2 linked regions of the Homo sapiens genome follow. The protein of the gene in region 1 purifies or fractionates together with the protein of each later gene. This does not show direct contact. Each region holds a gene or a part of one and is shown on either strand. Other genes may lie near its edges.

Region 1 (3,653 bases):
TCTGCCACCCAGGCTGGAGTGCAGTGCCACGAACACAAACCACTGCAGCCTTAAACTCCTGGAATCAAGTGATCCTCCCGTCTCAGCCTCCCACCATCTGGAACCACAAGTGTACCACCACACCCACCTAATTTTTTCTTTTCTTTGTAGAGATGGAGTCTTACTTTGTTGCTGAAGGTGGTCTTGAACTCCTGGGCTCAAGCAATCCTCCTGCCTTACCCTCCCAAAGTGCTGGGATTACTCCTCCCAAAGTACTGACCACCATGCCTGGCCAAGAGTTCAATCTCATTAAAGGAAGGTATGAAAGTATACATTCAAAGGAAGAAAATAACCAGTTAACACTTTGGTCTTCCTCGGGGTAGTGAATCACAAATTTTCCTTCTTTATATTTCTGAATTTTCCTAGCTTTTTTTTTTTAACTGAATAGTTTAATAATCAGCAAAAAAGACGTATCATTTTAAATAAAAGGTAGTGGGCCAGGCGTGGTGGTTCACGCCTGTAATCCCAGCACCTTGGGAGGCCAAGGCGGGCGGATCACAGGGTCAAGGGATTGAGACCATCCTGGCCAACATGGTGAAACCCCATCTATACTAAAAATACAAAAATTAGCTGGGCATGGTGACGTGCACCTGTAGCCCCAGCTACTCAGGAGGCTGAGGCAGGAGAATTGCTTGAACCCGAGAGGCGGAGGTTGCAGTGAGCCGAGATCATGCTACTGCACTCCAGCCTGGCGACAGAGCTTGACTCTGTCTCAGAGAGAGAAAAAAAAAAAAGGTAGTGGAAGAAAGAGACACTTTTTTTTTTTTTTGAGATGGAATCTTGCTCTGTCGCCAGGCTGGAGTGCAATGGCACGATCCCGGCTCACTGCAAGCTCCGCCTCCCCAGTTCAAGCGATTCTACTACCTCAGCCTCCTGAATAGCTGGGACTACAGTGCATGCCACTATGCCCAGCTAATTTTTATATTTTTAGTATAGACGGGGTTTCACCACGTTGGCCAGGATGGTCTCTATCTCTTGACCCTGTGATCCACCCTCCTCGGCCTCCCAAAGTGCTGGGATTACAGGTGTGAGCCATCGCCCCCGGCCGAAAGATACACTTTTACAAGGGGTGAAATGTCGTGGTCTTTAGGGCACTAGCATATAATGGAAAGGCAGGATGGTACATCAGAAAGAGCACTGAACTGAGTTAGCAGACCTAGACTGACATTCCAGCTGAGCCACCTGAGCATACAGCCTCAGCTATTTCAGGCAGATACACACAACAGTTGTGAGCACCAAATGAAATCACATGTAAACTACAAATACCACAGAAACATTAAAAAGCATTTAAAGGCAAATGTGTAGGAAGGTTTCTACAAAATGTTATCGCTTTTTTAACAACCATTAACATGGTGCAGGTCAGAGGATTTAAGAGTGGGTTTTAAATGACCCGCAGTTATCTCAGGGATCCTCATATCTGTAAGTGAACAGAAGAACTGTTGGTAGGCTGACTGAATACCACATATAAGGGACACTATTTTTCATAAAGTCTATGCTTGGTTATTTAAGGTTAATTCATAGCAGCTTTGTAATTATGCACTCTCAAATAACTCAAACTACAAAGCTTATTCAATGGAAACCAACTTTTTATTACACTTACATACCAATATTGGAAATCAATGATGTAACTATTTACTTCACTAAGTAACTTTTAAAGGACTCCTGATCTGAGATGGTTAATGCCCAGCAGTATGAAGCAAAGCTGGAAAGGAAAGGCTGAGGGAGAAGAGAGAACTTCCTTTCCTTTATCTGGCAGCAGCCACACAAGAAGGACCAACTAAGAGACAAGCAAGGCTGGAGAATTCCTAAACTGCCCTTGTCCCAGGCTCCCCTTAAATAGGCTCCCTTGGATTTGCTTGGTCCCAACTGTAGACAGTCCCAGGACACCAGAAGTGGACAACAGAATCAGGCAAACTTAAATTTCTCAGCAGTGATGCCATCACCAAAACAGAGACTCCAGGCCCCATGAGTTAAGTACTGCATCTTCAAGCAAATGAACAAGGCCAATGCTGTAGGTCAGCATTGGAACCAACTCCCAAGCTTTCTTCCTCCCACAAGGAGATATTTTGCAAGTAGCTATTCTTAAATATGTTTTTGTAATCACAGCCTGGGATACTAAAATTGAAACTGGTAACAGACACTGCTAAAAAACTTGTTTTGATTTCACTCGCCACATCACTTTTACCTCTGATTCACAAATCGCAGTGACCACCACCATTAAGAAATGTTTTAAAAATAAGTTTTAGGCTGGGCATGGTGGCTCACGCCTGTAATTCCAGCACTTTGGGAGGCCGAGGCGGGTGGATCACGAGGTCAGGAGATCAAGACCAATCTGGCTAACACGGTGAAACCCCGTCTCTACTAAAAATACAAAAATTAGCCGGGCGTGGTGGTGGGTGCCTGTAGTCCCAGCTACTCGGGAGGCTGAGGCAGGAGAATGGCATGAATCTGGAAGGTGGAGCTTGCAGTGAGCTGAGATGGCACCACTGCACTCCAGCCTGGGCTACAAAGCAAGATTCCGTCTAAAAAAAAAAAAAAAGTTTTAAAACACAAACTATTTTTCTGTCTTTAATGCCATATGGAGTGTGGGGAAAAACAGAATAGAAGATTTAAGAGCAAATAACTGAAAAGATCAGCATATTGCAAAAATGTTTCTGCAGCAAACTGCAGACAGAGAAGCATAGAGAACTATTAGATAATATTAACAGATAAGCATGTGGTAACACAAAGGAATGGATGCCTGAGAATACAATGGTAGCCTTCCTTACATGAGAGGTAAGAATCATCAACAGCAAGCCAATAGCCAAAAAATAAGGGGGGAGGCGGGGAGTTCATTTCTCGAGTTTCAGTCGCCTTCAGAAGAAGACATTTAATGCCAAGGGGAACCTCTGTTTAGCCTTATTCAGGAGGACTTCTAATCCTTACCTCCCCAGGAAAAGCCTGCCTACAGCTCCAAGTCCAACATCTGGTCAAATCTATCTCAGCTGTATTTGTTGAATTAAATGAATGGGGAGATAAATACTTTATCATAGGAAAAACTAAAATATTTGTGTCAAATGCCAGAGAGGAATGTGCATAAGACAACTGTCATATTTGCGTGGTCTGTGTTTGCTACATCTTTGTTTACAAAGTCTAATGCCAAAGTAAGAGCAAAAACGTTATTAGTGAAGATCCCTTTGAAGACTTTTTTTTTTTTTTTTTTTGAGAAGAAGTCTCGCTCTGTCGCCCAGGCTGGAGTGCAGCGGCATGATCTCTGCTCACTGCAAGCCCTGCCTCCTGGGTTCACGCCATTCTCCTGCCTCAGCCTCACGAGTAGCTGGGACTACAGGCGCCCGCCACCACGCCCGGCTAATTTTTTGTATTTTTAGTAGAGATGGGGTTTCACTGTGTTAGCCAGGATGGTCTCGATCTCCTGACCTCATGATCCACCTGCCTCGGCCTCCCAAAGTGCTGGGATTACAGGCGTGAGCCACCGTGCCCAGCTGAAGACATATTAAAAGCTAATCAAATAACCAAAATTTTTTGGCTTCACTTGGCAGTGGGGTCAGAAAACTGATTCAAAGCCACACTTTACTATAAAGAGTTGTTCTCTGATTACAGGGTTGGTGAGCTTA
Region 2 (3,653 bases), on another chromosome or scaffold:
TAAATTTCAAAAACTCATCGATTAAAAACATTCTCAAGTCACAAAATGTTCCCTTTGTTTAGCTGCTTACACAGGGAGGCCTTATTTTCAATCAATTATAAATATGCAATTCTATTAATACATGAAAATTAAAATAACTTCAATTTACTAGTAGTTTTACAAAATAATTTAAAAAATATTTTTACTAGCAAATTCCCCTAACAGGTTTGCAATATAAGCAGTCATCATCTCATTAAAAAGGTAACTTTTCACAAATACATTACTTGAAGTGAGATCATATCTATTTCTACTACCGCTGGAATAAAATAATGAAAATTTACACCCAAAAATAATTTTAATAAATCAAAATTTTTAAAGTGGCTTGTCATTGAAATTTGGAGATGTTTCCACAGCCTCCCCTGATAAATAAATAGAGAAAAAAAATATATCTAAGTAAACAGTCAGCAGGCAGTTAAAGATGAGAAATTATTTGCTTCAAAGAGTATCCAGGACTAGATATACAAATCATAGGATTATCCAAATAGAGATGACAGTACAAAGCCTGTGAACAGGTTATCAAGCAAAGACAGAATAGAGACTATCGGTGATGAAAGAGACATCCCTGGCTAGTACCTGTGTTTCTAGAATGGAAGGCAGAACAGTTGCTAGCAAGAGAAGACATTTCAGAGATGAAGAAGTGGAAAAGAAGCATGCAGGGTCTCAGAGGGAGGGGGTGATCAACATTAAGAAGGGGAGCAAATGTTCGAGAGAATAAGGACTGTAAGAACAGACGTGGTAATTAGATTAATAGTGACCTTCAAGAAAACAGCATCTGCAAAAGTAAAGGGGGTCGAAATGGGAATATCTATATTAAAAAAAATGATTAGGCACAGCTATTACAATTCTATTATGCAAATATTCTGAAATACATTTAGTAAAATATGATACTTTTGTTGCAACATTGGTCTGAAGTGTTAAGCTCTTTTATCTCCCTCTTCCAATCTTAATTTAAGAAACAAAGATACAATCAAGAAGAAAAAAATATAGACTCCAAAAAGCAGGACAGCAAGTACCAGCAATATTCCATCATAATTAACAGGAATGTAAAACTTACTTTTGGATGCATATTATTTTCCTTTACTAAAATTTCTGGTTCTGAAAGAAAACTAATCAGCTCTTTTACTTTCTGTGAAGAAGAGTCTTCAGGAAAATCTTCATCTACTAGCTTGTTCTCCTCAAAATATGTCATGTCCAAAATAGCCTAAAAAAAAAAAAAAAGAAAGATATCTATCAATGACTTAAAATTGAAAAAAAACAATTCTTACAGTCTAACCTTGCACACATAGGTGCTTTATTACACATTTAAATCTTCTAGCTCAGTATGTAAATTTGAGAAGTAGGCAAAATGTCTAGATGTAAATATAATTTGAGAAAGATTTTAAAGAAAACTTCATAGGTATTTCACTAAAGTGCTGAATTAATGATAATCTTTCTTTCCCTCAAAAAAGAAAATAGAGCTTTGTTTTAATTTACAGAATTTAATCATATATAATTATGAAAAAGGTAATTATTATATTCTACTACTTATATAACCCCTGAAAATTTTCTAAATGCCTGCTGTATCAAGTTAAGGTCACTACTTCCAGTTTTGAACCTTCAAAGGATTTGTGTTCCCAAATACAGAGCCAGCGTGAGGGGCGTATGTATCCTGCCACCCAATAGAGGAAGCATACCATCAACATATGCAACTCAAACACTAAGCCCCCAGTATTCCTAATTATTAGAGATGCTGTTAAAGCATATTAAAACTCCCCAATCCTTTTTCCTTTTTTAATCTATTGAACTAAGACTAAGGAAACTGGGTTCTAGGGTCAGTTCTACCACTAATCACTTAACTAACCAAAGACAAGTCAATTTTACCTTTTTTGAGCCTCAGTTTCTTAATTGGCTAAATGATAAATTGGACTAAAATACCTTTCAAAGTTCCTTGTTGGAGTAAAAAATTAATTAACATATGTAAGGTACTAGAAACGTTACCTAGCACCCAGTTAGTGCTTTACTTTCTGTGAACATGAGGAGTAAATGTTATCGTGCGAAAGGCCTAAGCCAGTAAGGAGAGATCATCATATATGATTTCATCATCATATGAAAGGTGATCTGTTGATTCAGAACCATCAATAGGGTTTAAGAGGATCTTAAAATTGAAATCTGTATCTCTAGGTCTTTTGCCTTATTCCAGTAAGTTAAAATGTCTGGAACACTCTCGTGAAAAAAATGAGATGACATAAAACACATACAGACAAGCACAGAGTCTTCTGAACAGAAAGAAAACCAAGCAAAATACCTGCCAAACTTAAAACAGTTCTCTGTGGTTTGTGAGTAGCTGTTAGGCTTACTCATCCATGGTGTTTGAAGGCAGAAGCTATCTTTAGAAATTTCCTAACAGGAAGAACAGCACCAAGCATTTAAATGCTATAAATGGGCACTTTGGAAGCCTAACTAAGTGTACTGTACTTTCTGTAACCACTTCAGTTTTATTATCCCTTAGCAATCCAAAAAGGGCACATGAAAACACTCTATCAACTACAAAGTGCTATATAGATGTTAGTTACCATAATAAAATTACATTTCTTGATGTTAGCATGCCTCAGCAGTGTTTCAGAAAACCAAGAAAAAAAGGTGTTGTCCACACAGCAGCCTGATTTGGAAAGGAAAGTTAAAAAAAAAAGTGGGTGAATAGAAAAATCACATAGATATGCATGACACTAGCAGGGAGAATAATATTGAGAATCCTAGGGAAGGTAAATTTCAGGGGAAAAAAAAAAAGTCAGGGCCCTTATATACTCCCCTGCTCCCTCTGAAACTTTCAAGAGATTGGACATTGCACACACTAGTGTCCTGTTCAATTATCTCTAAAGGAAAACAATTCCGTTATCTGTAAGATTTTCTTCCTGACTTTTCTTATTAACACATCTAATAAATCTTACTTCTTTTCATACTACCTCAAAGTTTTAAGTTTTTGTGTTTTATTCATAGTTTTTTGGACAAAATTAAACACTTGAAATATAGAATAAACTGATTTCATTTTACCTAAAGTTGGAGTCAATCATCTAAATAAACAACCTGCCCTCATAAAATGCCAGAGTCCACCACTCTTTCAGTACCTGTGTGTAAAGTTCTAGAAGATTTGATGGATTTGAACATTCTTTCTCTTCTCCACACAGGAGTTTCAATTTTTCTAATGCTGCAGAGGCCCGAATTAAAAAGTGATCTATAAGAAATAAAAACATGAGGATTACTTCACCTAGTTTCAGAGTGTTATTTAAACAAAAAACACATTATGTATGAAGATGAAATGACAAGATGAAATAATATTATGACATATGGAGAAACAGAATTATAGTAATAATATCTTATCTAAAACATGAAATATCTCATAATGCCTAATCCTAATTAAGTAAATTTATCATGAAAATTTTTCCTACAAAGCAAAATACTGAAAACTTTCTAGAGTCACTCTTGCCATTTCTTAAATGCAGTCTGTATTCTCATTATGCTTCTTTTATGATAATGCACTCAAAATAATTAAACAAATTTAAAACTTACTGGAATATACAAATAATATACATAAATATACAGAAAGGGCTTCCACTGAAAACTTAAGATTTCATAAA

The links.
Region 2: the proteins of RAB7A (region 1) and RIMOC1 purify together in Homo sapiens (affinity purification with western blotting; 2 studies listed by BioGRID, with this or other methods). This does not show direct contact.

The regions. Positions count from the first base shown.
Region 1 is NC_000003.12:128,729,159-128,732,811, reverse strand, and holds part of RAB7A (ras-related protein Rab-7a), read right to left. Parts: intron 1-3,653.
Region 2 is NC_000005.10:41,907,333-41,910,985, reverse strand, and holds part of RIMOC1 (RAB7A-interacting MON1-CCZ1 complex subunit 1), read right to left. Parts: intron 3,251-3,653; coding exon 3,144-3,250; intron 1,241-3,143; coding exon 1,094-1,240; intron 1-1,093. UniProt on the Homo sapiens protein: Plays an important role in the removal of damaged mitochondria via mitophagy by controlling the stability and localization of RAB7A.